2 linked regions of the Homo sapiens genome follow. The protein of the gene in region 1 purifies or fractionates together with the protein of each later gene. This does not show direct contact. Each region holds a gene or a part of one and is shown on either strand. Other genes may lie near its edges.

Region 1 (8,298 bases):
GAAATATGGAATTCATATGTGTACTTTATTAAAATTCATGATTGTACTCGATTAAGTAATAATAGAGTACAGTGTCTAGGTTCAAGACATCACTGACCCACTCCTTGTTGTCCATGTTTTTCTGAGTAAATCTTAGAAGTCTTTTTAGAGCATAATTATACAATCTGCCAGACAAAATGCTAACTTTCTTTTTTTTTGAGAGCTTGTTTTCTTAGAAACATGCTTTTTTCAGATGAGAAACCACAACTGTATAGATAAAAACACTTTCTGTTTGTGAATCTTAATCAATATTTAGGCAATACAAGAGTCTAGTCATTTCTTAATTGGGCTCTACTGGAGAATTCATAGATAAAACTTAAGGCATCTATTCTGTGAAATGAATTAACTTCTCTCTCGTGCATCTAGAGTGGTCCCTAGGGATGTGCCATTCTTGGGATAATTGAAAAAATAAACACTCAAAATTATTTTCTGTGATCTGTGGTACAGGTAAGGAACCATGGGCTGGATAGGCCTTTACATTGCATTTAAGCATTTAAAAATTACACTGAACTTTAATGGATCATTGAGTTGGAATGAGGAGGGGATATCCATTAAAAGATTGATTAATAAAATAAGGAAAATAGTAGTGATTTTTAAAAATATACCCTCAAGGATAAATTCTCCTAAATGTACTCACTTGAGACTTGAGATCACATCTATTTCTATAGGAGATTAAGGAGTTGATAAAATACCTCCGTTGAGGGAATCTTGGGTTCTCATCACATATTTCCAGAAAAACATGCTTCATGGATCCTGAAATATAAAAGATCCTCTTCTGATAAAATTAAGATTGTAGTTTTGAATGAATGAATGAATGAAGTTTGGTCAATAAATATCTGCTTATTAAATACTTAAGTGTCTATTCTAGTTGGAAAGACAAGATCAGCACAAAAAATTGTATGAGTCAAGTAAAGGACCCATTTAAAGGGTTTGAACTTGCTTGAAATTGCTTGAAAAAATACTATGGTTATTAAGTGCTAGATTGAATGACATAGTCAACACTGTTCAATAGAAATGTAATACAAGTTACATATGTAGTTTAAAATTTTCTAGGAGCCACATTAAAATACGTTAAAAGAAACAGGTGAAATTATTTTAATAATATTTAATCTAGTATATCAAAAATATTATTTCAATATGCTCTCAACATAAACAAATGAAATATTTTACTTTTTTAAATGAAAGTCTTCAAAATCCAAGGTGTATCTAGTCTCAAGAGCCCAGTTAGCCCATGTGGCTCATATGCTCAGTAACTACATGTGGCTGCTGTATAGAATAGTGCAAATAAAGACTATGTGAGGATAAGTATTGTTTGAAACTTGAACTTAGTGAATTCTCTTTTACAGCAAAGAGTTAAGATCTCTAGTATACTGTCTTGACTCAAGGTTGAGATATAGTGTTGAATAAATTATTTCTGATGTGGCTGAGCTATAGCCTTGAATTCCATAGCTTATCACTTTTGGTTTTCTAATATTTGTATTATTTGAGTAATTTCAAAGAACTAGAGAAAAGTATTGATGTGTTGATTTTATCTCTTTGATTTTCTTGAAATGTAAATATTATATGTATTTAAATTCAAGTGAATGTTTAAGATTAAATAGTGTATGTCTGTATACCTGTATGTATCTATGTGTACACATAGTCACTATTGTTACTGTTATGATAAAGGAATATACTTGCATAGGCATGTGACTTACTTGTCCCTATTCAAATGCAGAAAAATATTTGCTTCTTTCAGTCTAGTACAGTGTCACATATTTTTACTTTTTTTTTTTTTGAGACAGAGTCTCGCTCTGTCACCCAGGCTGGAGTGCAGTGGCTCAATCTCGGCCCACTGCAACCTCCACCTCCTAGGTTCAAGCAATTCTCATGCCTCAACCTCCCAAGCATCTGGGACTACAGGCACCTGCCACCCTGCCTGGCTAATTTTTGTATTTTTAGTAGAAACGGGGTTTTGCCATATTGGCCAGGATGGTCTCGAACTCCTGACCTCAGGTGATCTGCCCACCTCGGCCTCCCGAAGTGTTGGGATTACAGACGTGAGCCACTGTGCCCAGCCTACTTATTTTTTTTTATTACCAAAATAATACTGTTTGTTTTACAATATATTTTCAGGGTTCAATATGTAAGGGAACATTCTCTAGTATCTGAACTTTAGAACCTGGACCCTACCTAGGAAGATTAGCAAGTACACACCACTGAGGAAGGACTTTAAAGAAATATTTAGCTATTTTCAGAAAAAAGGCTCCAGTACTTCAGAATTTATAATAAAGATGTGTGTTCCAAATGTTGTAACTGTTCCATTAAAAGTGATGCTAATGAATCATAGAATCAGTTTAATTTCACTAAACTTAGTTTTTACTATTTTCAAAGCTATACAAACAAATCAATATGAAATTACATCATGTTTTTGCATTTTATCATGGTTCTCATCACTTCCTCTATATAAATGAAGAGAAGAAGCAGTAAAATTCAAATTTTCCTGAATACTTTTGTGTCCAGTGACATTCATTTCGATTCTTTCCAGATACCCTCTTTCAGCAGACACTTGATCAGCGTTTACTGCCTAAGGCTGAGAAGAAACTAGCTGCTCTGTCTAGCTCATTGTACATGTACAACTGTCCTCTAGCTTTGAGATCAGTAGCCAGGGCCTTTCGGTAATCAGCAGCTTACAGTTAAGGGGAAGGGGCAGAGAAGTTTGGTATTTACTCTTGACTTGGAGAAATAATGTGCCTCTAGCATTAATAAGAAATAGCTAAAAGAGTGAAAAGAAAAGTCTGAATACAAGAACAAAGTCAAAGTTCTTTCTTTGAATATGAAAAGAGAAGGGGAGGAAAAAGGAAGAAAGGAAACTGGTTTAGGGGATGGGAAAAATTGCTGTCATTTTAGTATCAAATGAATGAAAAAGTTTTTTAAATATCAGGAAGGAGAGAAAACTGAGGGTTAGAATTTTACTATAATGCTGGGTATAACACAGAACCAAGTAAATTACGGGAGAATTGCATAAATAATAGCAGAGGTTTTGGCATTAGGCATATCTGACCTGAATCCTGACCTGATGAAGCCACTTATTCATCTAGTTACTTAATCCTTTGGGTTGTTTCTATTCTGCATAATTGTGATAATAATAATTGTGAGGAGAATTAAATGAGATTTTTTTAAGGAACTTGGTAAGCATTTAATAAATGTAATTTAGTTATTTATTTCCATAGACTTTCCCATTCTTAATACTGGTGCCATAGTGGGGCCAGGCACAGTGGCTCATGCCAGTAATCCTAGCACTTTGGAAGGCCCAGGCGGGTGGATTGCCTGAGCTCCATCCAGCCTGGGCAACTTGGTGAAACCCCATCTCTACTAAAACACAAAAAATTAGCTGGTTGTGGTAATGTGTGTGTGTAGTCCCAGTACTCAGGAGGCTGTGGCATGAGAATTGCTTGAACCTGGGAGGAGGAGGTTGCAGTGAGCCAAGATTGCACCACTGCATTCTAGCTTAGGTGACGGAGTGAGACTGTCTCAAAAAAAAAAAAAAAAAAATGCTGCCATAGTGGATTAAGATGATGACAAAGAACTCCATTGGAAGGGTGGATTTTCTATTTATTCTACTATGAATTTTGGTGGATTTAACTACTAATGTGGTAAAACTGAGAACATAGAGAATGTCAGCATAAGACTTTATGACATTTTACTAACTGATAAAAGCTCCCCCTAAAATTTGCTATAGTAGTGAAAAGTTCTCATATAAGCTGTATTTAATCTGCCTCAGATATTAAAGCTATTGGTTTCAGAAATTATTCAAAATTGAGAATAACAGAATTACAGGATAAACTTTAGCCACATTCTTTTGAAGGCTGATTATGTAAGTAAAAGATATGATTTATCTGTAGCAGTTTTAGTTTTTTGAAGGTGGCATAGTGATGACCATTTAGCATCTTTGGAGTGTCAAGCACAGAATAGATGTTCAACAGTTATTTGCCTGAGAAATTGAGACTGAGATTGGAGTACTTAACCCACACAAGCTAGTTTGCTTTGTTCTCTTCCATAATTATAGATGTCACTCTTCGATCTACTGCAGATTAGTATCCTTAGTCACCAGGAAAGTTGAGACAAGGCACCTATCATGACATCATCTAAAAGAATGTGCATGTGCTTTATTGACAGGACATCAGTAGCAATATCTTTTATAAAGATACTATCTCAAAGCTTTTATAAAGAATAACACATTATTATAACTAAAGTTAACTGTGGTGAAGCCTGAAAATCAGATCATTTATCCATGGACAGATGTTTAAATTTCATCAAAGTGACTGCCAGACATTTTTGGATCATGTTGTCGGATTAGCCTAATTTTGTACTTCAGAAACATAGAAGGAATCTTTTGTTGGCGGATAGGTTTTTAGAAATTACCAAAGTTTAAATCATTTATTTTACTGATAAGGAAACATTTATATTTAAAACAAGTAAATATAAACCACATACATAGAATGTTTTTACTTCTTCATAAAATAATTTTTTATTTTCTTTATAAATAGTGAGCTATAATAGATTGATTTTAAGGTATGCAGAATAAAGTTTAGAAGAGCCCAGTGATAATACTAGCAACAAAGTAGTGTGTTGGAATACATATTGCTTCATTACATATTACATTATTAAGTGTTATTTTGGTAGTGTTTATAGAGAGCTTTGAGATAAATAGCCTTATCTGACACAATGCAACGTTGTGGTGCCACTGCAATTGTTATTAGGCAATTTTGCAAATGATACTGTGGGAGTGAAGAGAAGAATTGAATAAATGTGAAAATGAGAATAATTTGGACTAGAAACTATAGTGTTTATGATAAATTAGTCTCCAGAAGGTATAAATAATAGGTAATATAAACTCAAAACAGGGAAGGAATCACTTGGAGTTTTGTAAATTTAATACGTTTGTTGGACTTACAGACAAGAAATAAAAGTCTCTATAAGATGTATTTTAATTTTGTTTATATTTAAATTTTGAGTTTTTAAAGAGATAGCAGTACCCAGTTATCTATCAGTTAAGAAATCTGGGTGTTTAAGAAAGTTTGGGTTCCTTCCATTAAAAGGGAGATTTATAAGACTTGGCTTTTGCTTGGCTTTTTCATTTTTTTAAATATCCATTTTTAAGCATATTTTATATTATGGTTCTTCTTTATTTTCAACATTTTACTGTCAAATTCTTTTGCCTTAAGGGAAGATTTATAAAATACTCTATTCTTCAGTGCATTTATATATTATGTCTCTTCCACTGGACCTGTTACTATCTTGTAACTGTTTACAGTGGTCAAGGTTTTTTTTTTTTAATTTGAAACATATTGCTGTGGGGAAATTTCTTCTTCCTGAAATGAGCTCACCTCTATTGCCACACAATAAAAGAATTCTCAGCTTTTGAGAGCTCTGGCTTCCTTATGAAATATGGATAGACTTCTGCTTCTGAAGTGTTTTAGGTTTTTTTCTTTAGATAAGGAAGAAGAGGAATAAATAGTATGAGGTGTGTTTCTTCTTTTAAGACACAGGAATATCTATATCAGATAAATGAGAAGAAAATTAAGAAACTTTAAAGCTCTAAATGAGAGAGCTCATTAGAAATTAGCTACTTGGATGATGAAAATTTCTTCATCATCTACACTTAAAGGCATTTATGGTTTTTATACTACTTAGATACTTGATTTTGCAATTAGTATTTCTTTAGAATGTTTGTCCCTGATAGCTCCATCACATGGACTGTTATTCCTGAACACTCTGTTGTATTCTCCATGAAAAAATATTTTAGGAGAAAAGATAGAAAACTCAGCAATTATTTCAAGATAATTGTTGAGGACTTCCCTTGTTTCTTTTAAAAGCATAGCCTTTTGTTAGCCAGGTAGATTTATCTTTTCTTTAACATCTTCGATCAAGTAATACTTGAGGGAAATATTCTGTAGAAAGACATCCATTGAAGGCCAGAAACATCTACAGATGCAATGTGATCCCAAGCAATGAAGCATGTGGCCCTTCATTGGCATTATATGATAACAGGAGGATCTTCTGGCAGAAGAAGTGACTTTTGCTGCGTTCTGCATGCTGCCCCTCCAAACCCATCTTTGATTGGCACCTATGCCCTATTGAAACTGGCATCACACCTTCTGAATGGGCACAGTGCCAGGCTAGCAGATGGGTATGGGCAAAAGCATGCCAGAAACCCAGTATGTGAATCAAGTTTAAGTATCAGGGGCCCAAATTCCCATCCAGGGATATAAAAACTACAGTCTGTTGAGAGCTTTTTGTGCTTAAGGTTAAAGGACATGCCATTTCTACTCCAACTTAGAAGTTGATTAATTTTGAAAGTCAAACAGCAGCTCCTGTGGCTGTGTCAGGCAAAATCCTGTCTTTGGTGAATGAGAATTACTACTTCGTGTAGGGAAGAGAAAGTATTGTAATGAAGTTTCCAATGAGAGTTACTCTCCTGCAAGTGCCTCCAGCACTTAAGCAGCATGCATTCAGTGGAGATGAATATTTCTGTTCTCCAGCAGAGCCAGGTGCAATCAAAGCCAGATCTTCAACCTGCTGCAGTAAAGAACCCTAAATTTAGAAAGGGCAGGCAAAGTTTAGAAGAACTCCTTGGTGGCAGGCAGCTCTTTTCACTATGAGCTGATGAAGCTTCACAAAATTGTATAAAGGAGATGAAGGGAAAACTCCAAATAAAAGACCTTCAGAAAATTTCATCCAGAAACAGAAAGATTTTTAACAAACCAAAGGAAAAAGTTTAGTCCTTTCTCCTCAATGCAGAAAATCTTCTGAGTTTTCTATCAATAAAAACTTAGTTAACCAAAATGTTAGAACCAACTTAATGCATAAGTGACAAAACTTTCTATTTTTACATTTATTTCATTGCATGTCTATCATGTATATAAACTTTGCTTCTTGAATAATGGATTTTGCATAAAATTGAGAACTCTAAACATCATATTTCCTTCTGATTGTCTCACACCCACTACAGAACTCCCCTCCCCCACCCCCTAAAAGAGGGCACGCTTCCTTCTGATCACTTTAATCATATCTTCTAAATGCTCTAAAATTTACAGGAATGCCTGTAAGACCAGCTGTGGCCAAGAGAAGCTTTTCCTAATCGCCTTATAGCCGTTGCTTTTGCTTTTTCACTGTGTAAACTTTATCTATGGAACAGATTCCATGAGACCGTTGTGAATACTTCAACGTATTCAAAACATATAACTGCCACAAATTAAACTACTAAAACTAAAGCTGGTGCATTGTAACTGCCAAGTAAAACTGGCACGTCCCTCTGTCAGACTGCAGGAGAGTGTGCCATACAGTCCTCGGAAAACACAATTCATCCAGAAGCACTCTTGTCACTTGCTCTGATATTAAACCAGAGAAAGTGACATTAATTAAAGAAGTGACATGAGCCAACAAAGGCAATGAATTCTCAGCTTTGGCTCATGTGCAGACCTTAATCCAACCTGTTCTGCTTAGGTAGTGTGGCTATTTCTGAAGAGTAACTAGTGTGGCTACTCACCCCACTTCCTCTCATCTTCCCATTCTGCATCACGTGTTTGAGGAACTAACATTTTATATCCAGGGTTGGACTGGTTAATTGGTACACTGGTAGTCATTGCAGGGCTTCCCAAAATAGTAGTGTGGTGGCATGTGATGCTTTTATTGTACTTGGTAATAGTGTGAGATGTACAACTAGAGGTAGAGGAGAGTTGGTCTAACGAAAAGGCAAGCAACAGCCAAACAGCAGAATACCTAGACTTGGTAGACTGGAAGCGAGGAGGGTCTGCTGCTAGGACTGGTTGTGGAAACAAATGGTGGCTTGGTAGGCTTTATGAAAATTCTGAAATGCTAAAGAGGCATGCTGGGGAGTGTTCATAACTTCTCTCTTTCTTTGTTCCGATGGTGTGCTTTCACACAATGCTCACCTCATTATTTCAGACGGTCACTATTTTGTATGCTGTCTTTTTAACCTGTTTCCCCCAACATGTGTGCACACAGACACTACATTATAAACTGCTTTCAGGCAGTCACTCACAGTGCTTAATATGGCCTTGCATGTTATAGTTCTTAAAAAATGATGTGTTAAATTAACTCTAGAACTGTTCTATTATGATTTTCCCAATAAATAGGTTGTATGAGACAAAAAAATTCCATGCTCTATCCTATATGTGACCTGCGTGTAAGGCACTGTACTTTCAGATTTAGATAAATTCTTTTGTATCTTTTGGGGAGTTTGAAGGGATAAAA
Region 2 (7,000 bases), on another chromosome or scaffold:
TTTTTTTCATCTGCAAAAATGGGGCTAATGATAGAACCTACTTAGCATAGTTGTGAAGATTAAATGAGGTAGTACATAGTAAACTTCCAAAGCTGTTGGCTGCTGGTGCCTTTGTTACTGCCTAAGTGTTGGACCAAAGGAAACTGGAAGGTGATTTTCATTCATGGTGGTAGATTATGTGTTAAGGTGCCTTTGCTTCTGGACAATCAACTCTCCCTAGTTTGGTTTTTTGTACCATCTGCATCTACCTCTATGACTCATTGCTGTGTTACAATAGGAGGCATCTTTGTGTAGGCTGCCCAAGACAAACAGGGACTGTTTCCCTGTGTTTCATAGCACTAATGAGAGGGAAAGCTGTACACATCTTCATCTTTCACTTCTGAGAGTGTTCCTCAAGCAAAATGTTCCCTATCTTGGGCTACCAGCAGAAAGAATTCTGTTGCTTTCATGATTTCTGTGATTAGACCAGGGCACAATTTTGAACGTTATCAGACAATGTGAACTAAAGAGGAAGAAAATCCATTTTGACAGTAAAGAACTCTTGGTACCAAATTGGCAAGGTTGCTTTTCCCTTGGCACCTGTGCTTACCTCTAACATAGCCCTTACCCAGTTCAGAGATGGAGTTGGGTAATACGGGACCTGAAGTTGATGCAAGTTGTAGGGGTCCTCAAAGAAAAATCATGCAAAAATAGCTTTCTTTTGTGTATTTTGCAGAAACATGTGAGCATATTACTAGGGTCTTAAGTGTTAGAATGAGATAATGAGATAATATTGTTCCTCTGTTTAAAATGTTCTTCTGGTTCTATTGCAGTTACACAAAATCCAAACTCCTTATATTGGACTATGAGACTGAGTGATCTGCCTGTTGTCCCCACCACCCCCTCCCACCAATCTCTTTAACCACATTTCCTGCCACTCCTTTCTTCCACCACACTAGTCCTCTTTCACTTCCTCTATGGGATGGTCTATACGCACTGCAGGCCTCTGTACATGCTGTTCCCTTTGCCTGGAATGAATCACTCCTCCTTCCCTAGGTAGGCAGGAAGCAGTCTTCACCTATTTGCCTAAATGTCACTTCCTCTGAGATGTTTATAAGCATCTCAGAGGAATGTGGTCCCTCTTTGTCATGTCACCTGAGCTGCTGCTTTTTTTTTTTTTTTTGGTATGGGGGTCTTGGTATGTTGCCCAGGCTGGTTCTTGAACTCCTGGACTCCAGTGATTCTACCACCTCAGCCTCTTGAGTAGCTGGGACTATAGGTGGGTACTACTGTGCCTGGCGCTCACCTGAGCTTTTAATAAGACTTAATCATTGTAATTTTTCATTGGGGTGTTCTTAATATTTATCTCTCCTGTACACTATAAACTTTAAGCACAGCACTGCCTTTTTGTTTTTTGAGACGGAGTCTCGCTCTATCGCCCAGGCTGGAATGCAGTGGCACTACCTCGGCTCACTGCAAGCTCCGCCTCCCAGGTTCATGCCATTCTCCTGCCTCAGCCTCCCAAGTAGCTGGGACTACAGGCGCCCACCACTGCGTCCAGCTAATTTTTTGTATTTTTAGTAGAGATGGGGTTTCACCATGTTAGCCAGGATGGTCTCGATCTCCTGATCTCGTGATCCCAAAGTGCTGGGATTACAGGCGTGAGCCACTGTGCCCAGCCTGCACTGCCTTTTTTTGACTCACCACTCTGTAAGTACACCCAAAATAGTTCTGGCACATAATAGGTCCATAGATGTTTGTTGAGTCAGTGAGTGAATGAAATTTCTAATATTTGCACAACGGGTTTAATAAACCTTTTTATGTCTTTTCCTTTTCTTTTCCCCTTTATGCTCATTCCTTTTTTCCCCATTTTCTTTTGTTTTAGTCACCCACTCAACCATTCTAAGATATTTATATGGTTTTATAATTCCACCTGTTAGTCTGGTTATGTGTATACCCTTGGGAAGTAGAAGGATGGTTTTGTATGTATCTGCTTAGGATTCTAAAATGTTATTGTGCTACAAATCTGCATTTCATAGACAGGATAGAATAGGTTATGTTGAGGTAACAACCACAAAATCTCAGTAATTTAACACACTTTCAGGTCAGTGGGAGGCTCTGTAGATTGGAGTCCTTTAGGGATCCAGGCTGATCGAGGCATCGTCTCTCAAGTATACCTACATGAGGAGGGAATCTTGTGAAGAGCTACATTCAGGCTCTTAAAGTTTTGCCTAGAGGTGAGCCTTGTCATTTTTGCTGCCATTTCTTTGGCCAGAGCAAATCATGTGGCCATGTTGACCTTCAAGGAGGGCAGTGACCTTTTTGGAAGGGGGAGAACCACGAATATTTGTGTGTTTTTTTTGGGTTTTTTTTTTTTTTTTTTTTTTTTAAGAAAGGGTTTCGCTCCCACTGCCCAGGCTGGAGTATAATGGTGCGTGCCACCACGCCCTGCTAAGTTTTGATTGTTTTGTAGAGATGGGGTTTCACCATGTTGCTCAGGCTGGTCTTGAACTCTTGGGCTCAAGCGATCTGCCCACCTCATCTTCCCAAAGTGCTGAAATTATAGGTATGAGCCACTGTGCTGGTGCACCAGGAGTATTTGAACAGAAGCAATGACCATCCCTAAATTTTATATCAGTTTCTTCTTTGTTTTCTTTTCTTTTCTTTTTTTTTTTTTTTTGAGATGGAGTTTTGCTCTTGTTGCCCAGGCTGGAGTGCAATGGCATGATCTCGGCTCACCGCAACCTCCGCCCCCCAGGTTCAAGCTATTCTCCTGCCTCAGCCTCCTGAGTAGCTGGGATTACAGGCATGTGCCACCGTGCCTGGCTAATTTTGTATTTTTAGTAGAGACAGGGTTTCACCATGTTGGTCAGGCTGGTCTCGAACTCCTGACCTCAGATGATCCGCCTGCCTCAGCCTCCCAAAGTGTTGGGCTTACAGGCGTGAGCCACCATGCCTGGCCTTAGTTTCTTTTTTTAACCAATTTTGTTTTGAGCTCTATTCATGATGCTATACAATATGTGTCTAGTTCATTATTTCTCTTGGTTGTAGAGCAGTCATGTTTGCCTGCCACATTTTACTTATTTATTTCTCTAGAATTAGACATCTTTGTTGTTTCCCAACCCCTTGCTGCCTCAAACAGTCATGACCATGCCCATCCTTGCACATCCTTGTCTCCTTTGGATGTTGTGAGAGAGTTTCCTGTGGAATGTACTCAGAAGTGGAATTGCTGGGTCTTAGGGTACATTGTCTCTCCTTCCAGGATAAGGCATGTTATCTCTTTCTCTCTCTCTTTTTTTTTTTTTGAGACCGAGTCTCACTCTGTTGCCCAGGCTGGAGTGCAGTGTTGCAATCCTGGCTCACTGCAACCCCTCCCCACAAGGTTCAAGCAATTCTCCTGCCTTAGCCTCCTGAGTAGCTGGGATTACAGGTGCCTGACACCATGCCCAGCTAATTTTTATATTTTTAGTAGAGACAGGGTTTCATTATATTGCTCAGGCTGGTCTCCAAGTCCTGACCTTGTGATCTGCCCTCCTTGGCCTCCCAAAGTGCTGGGATTACAGGTGTGAACCACCGCACCGGCTATTAATCTCTTTCTTTAAAACAATACCGTTAATCCAGTTGCAGTAGTGAGGCAGGGTACCTCTCAAGATCTCACTTTTTCTTTGACCTTGGGCAAGTCCTTTCTACTTTCTGACTCTTGGTTTCCTTAATCTGTAAAGTGGAGGTGATAATTGTTTACAAAATCTTTACCATGGTGGCCTACAAGGCCCTACCTGACCAGGTCCTTAGTTTTCTTCCAGTGTTCTCTTCACTCATGCACTCTAGCCACACTGTCCTTTGTGCTGTTGGGTTGTAGGTTGGGCACATTCTTATCTTAGAATCTTTGCATTTGCCATTCCTGCTGCCTGGAAAGCTTGTCTCTCAAATACCGTATGACTTGCTTCCTCACTTCCTTCACCCCTCTGTTGAAATGTCTCTTCACAGAGGCCATCTTTGATCACTGTAATACAGAACTCCCTGTCATTTTCTACCCTTTGATTTTGCCTTATTTTTCTTTGTAGCGCTGATCACTAACTGATGTTACATCGTGTATAAGTATTTATCTTCTTCTGCCACCCCAAGTGTAAGCTTCATGATGGTTGGGGCTTTGCCTTGTTCATTGCTCAGTGTGTAGAACAGATTCTGGCACATAGAAAATACTCAGTAGATACCTGTTGATTAAATGATTGACTAGATCCTACCTCAGAGGAATACCTTTGAAGATGTATAAAATTTCTTTGAAGGCTATAAGGTGCCGAATAACCTTAGGAGGGTTCACTGCTTGGCCTTAGTAGCGTTCATGATTTTGGATTTTGAATTGTTTCTATGTAACCCTGAAACACTCAGACTTACTTATTGCATTCAGGGTGTAGTTCATAGCATCAGCAGTTCTGCCAGGTTTGTAAGGAACACACATCTGTTAGAGTGTGAAGGCCCTGGAGGAAGAAAGGTTGAGACAGGTTGATGTGCTTTTTTTTGTCTCTTATGGCTCTTTCTGAGATGTGTACCATGATGATAACCAGGAACTTTTTTTTTTTTTTTTTTTTTGAGAGACAGGGTCTTGCTCAGACACTCAGGCTGGAGTGCATTGGTGCTCACTATAACCTTGAACTCCTGGGTTCAGGGAATCCTCCTGCTTCAGCCTCCTAAGTAGCTAGTACTACCGGCATGTACCACCATGCCTGGCTAATTTTAAAATTTAGAGATAGGGTCTTGCTGTATTGCCCAGGCTGGGCTCAAACTCCTTGCCTCATGCAATCCTCCCTCCTTGGCCTCCCAAAAGTGCTGGGTTTACAGGCATGAGCCACCATGTCTGGCCTGATAAGTAGGAGCTTTTGAAGTGGTTTCACACTGATTTTGTAGTTTTGAACTTGGATGCTTCTTTTGGGTAGTTGATGCAGTAACTAATACTGGTGCTGTCTTTCAGAACAGCTTCATGTGAAAAAGGCCTGCTTAAGCCTGTGTCTTTGGGAAGAACATCTCTGCCGCTGTTACAGCAGATACAGTAATAGCAAAGAAAGTCTTAAAGATGATTTAGCCCATGGCAAGGAAATATATGGGACTCTTGTTTGAATATAAACACTCACAGAATTCCAGTTTCACTTATTTATGCACCTTTCAAAGAAAGGAAGAAGATACTGTGGTAGAGTACAGTAGTCCTCCCTTATCTGAGTGGCATATGTTCCAAGACCCCTAGTGGATGCCTGAAACCACAGATATCAATAGTACCAAACCCTGCATATACTGTGTTTTTTCCTATGCAGTATATGCCTATGATGAAGTTTAATTTATAAATTAGGCATAGTAAGAGATTAACAATAATAACCAATAAAAAAGAATTATAACAATATATTGTAATGACAGTTACATGAATGTGGTTACTGTACTCACTGTGGGTAACTGGAATTGTCAAAGCAAAACTACATTTAAGTGGGTACTCCTGTAGCTGTTGGCCCTGCCTTGCCTATCTAGCTTAATTTTCCTCTGTTTTTCCGTTCACCTGCTGTGGTCCACTTACCACTTTCTTTACTCTCCTCACTGTGCCACCAGCATACTGTTGCTTACCTTCTTACATCTGTCTGGTCTTGCTGACATGGTTTTTTTTTTTGTCTGAAATGCCCTCCTCCACTTTCTTGCATGATTTTTTTTTTTTTTTTTTTGAGACGGAGTCTCACTCTGTCACCCAGGCTAGAGTGTGCAGTCACATGATCTTGGCTCACTGCAACCTCTGCCCACTGGGCTCAAGTGAGTATCGTGCCTCAGCCTCCCGAGTAGCTGGGATTACAGGCGCACACCACCACGCCGGGCTAATTCTTGTTATTTTTAGTAGAGACGGCGTCTCACCATGTTGCCCAGCCTGGTCTCGAACCCCTGACCTCAGGTGATCCACTGCCTCAGCCTCCCAAACTGCTGGGATTACAGGCGCCTGGCCCTCTTGCATGTTTTTATTTTTGTTTTATACTTGCCACTACACTTTAACTTCTGTGAAAACAGGGACTGTGATTGTCTTGTGTACTGGTATTTCTCCACCGTCTGCTGTGGGGCCTAGAATAAAATAAATGGTACCCATCTTTTTTGTTTTGTTTTGTTTTTGGAGATGAGTCTCACTCTGTCCCCAGACTGGAGTGCAGTGGCGCGATCTCGCCTCAGTGCAACCTATGCCTCCCGGGTTCAAGCGATTCTCCTGCCTCAGCCTCCCAAGTAGCTGGGCTACAGGTATGCGCCACCACATCTGGCTAATTTTTGTATTTTTAGTACAAAATTTAAAAATGATGGCCTCGATGTCGTGATCCGCCCTCCTCGGCCTCCCAAAGTGCTGGGATTACAGGTGTGAGTCACCGTGCCCGGCCCTTTTGTTTTTTTGAGATGGAGTTTCACTCTTCTCATCCAGGCTGGAGTGCAGTGGCATGATCTTGGCTCACGGCCACCTCCGCCTCCCACATTTTCCTGCCTCGGCCTCCCAAGTAGCTATGATAACAGGCACACACCACCATGGCCGGCTAATTTTTTTATTTTTAGTAGAGACAGGATTTCACCATGTTGGTCAGGCTGGTCTCGAACTCCTGACCTCAGGTGATATGCCTGCCTCAGCCCCACAAGGTGCTGGGATTACAGGCGTGAGACACCGTATCTGCCCCGGATGGTACCGATCTTTCAAGATCTTACATAAAGCTTATCTCCAATGTGTGTAGTCTTTTCTGAGCAACTCCATGCCATGCTCAGTTACATCACTCCCTACTTAGTTATAATAGTTCTTTTTTCTTTTTTTGAGACAGAGTTTTGCTCTTGTTGCCCAAGCTGGAGTGCAATGGCGTGATCTCGGCTCACTGCAACCTCTGCCTCCTGGGTTCAAGCGATTCTCCTGCCTCAGCCTCCCAAGTAGCTATGATTATAGGCGCACACCACCACTCCCAGCTAATTTTTGTATTTTTAGTAGAGGCAGGGTTTCACCATGTTGGCCAGGCTGGTCTTGAACTCC

Evidence for each region.
Region 2: the proteins of VRK2 (region 1) and MAP2K1 purify together in Homo sapiens (pull-down; 2 studies listed by IntAct, with this or other methods). This does not show direct contact.

What each region holds. Positions count from the first base shown.
Region 1 is NC_000002.12:58,049,047-58,057,344, forward strand, and holds part of VRK2 (serine/threonine-protein kinase VRK2), read left to right. Parts: intron 1-8,298. UniProt on the Homo sapiens protein: Serine/threonine kinase that regulates several signal transduction pathways.
Region 2 is NC_000015.10:66,389,912-66,396,911, forward strand, and holds part of MAP2K1 (dual specificity mitogen-activated protein kinase kinase 1), read left to right. Parts: intron 1-7,000. UniProt on the Homo sapiens protein: Dual specificity protein kinase which acts as an essential component of the MAP kinase signal transduction pathway.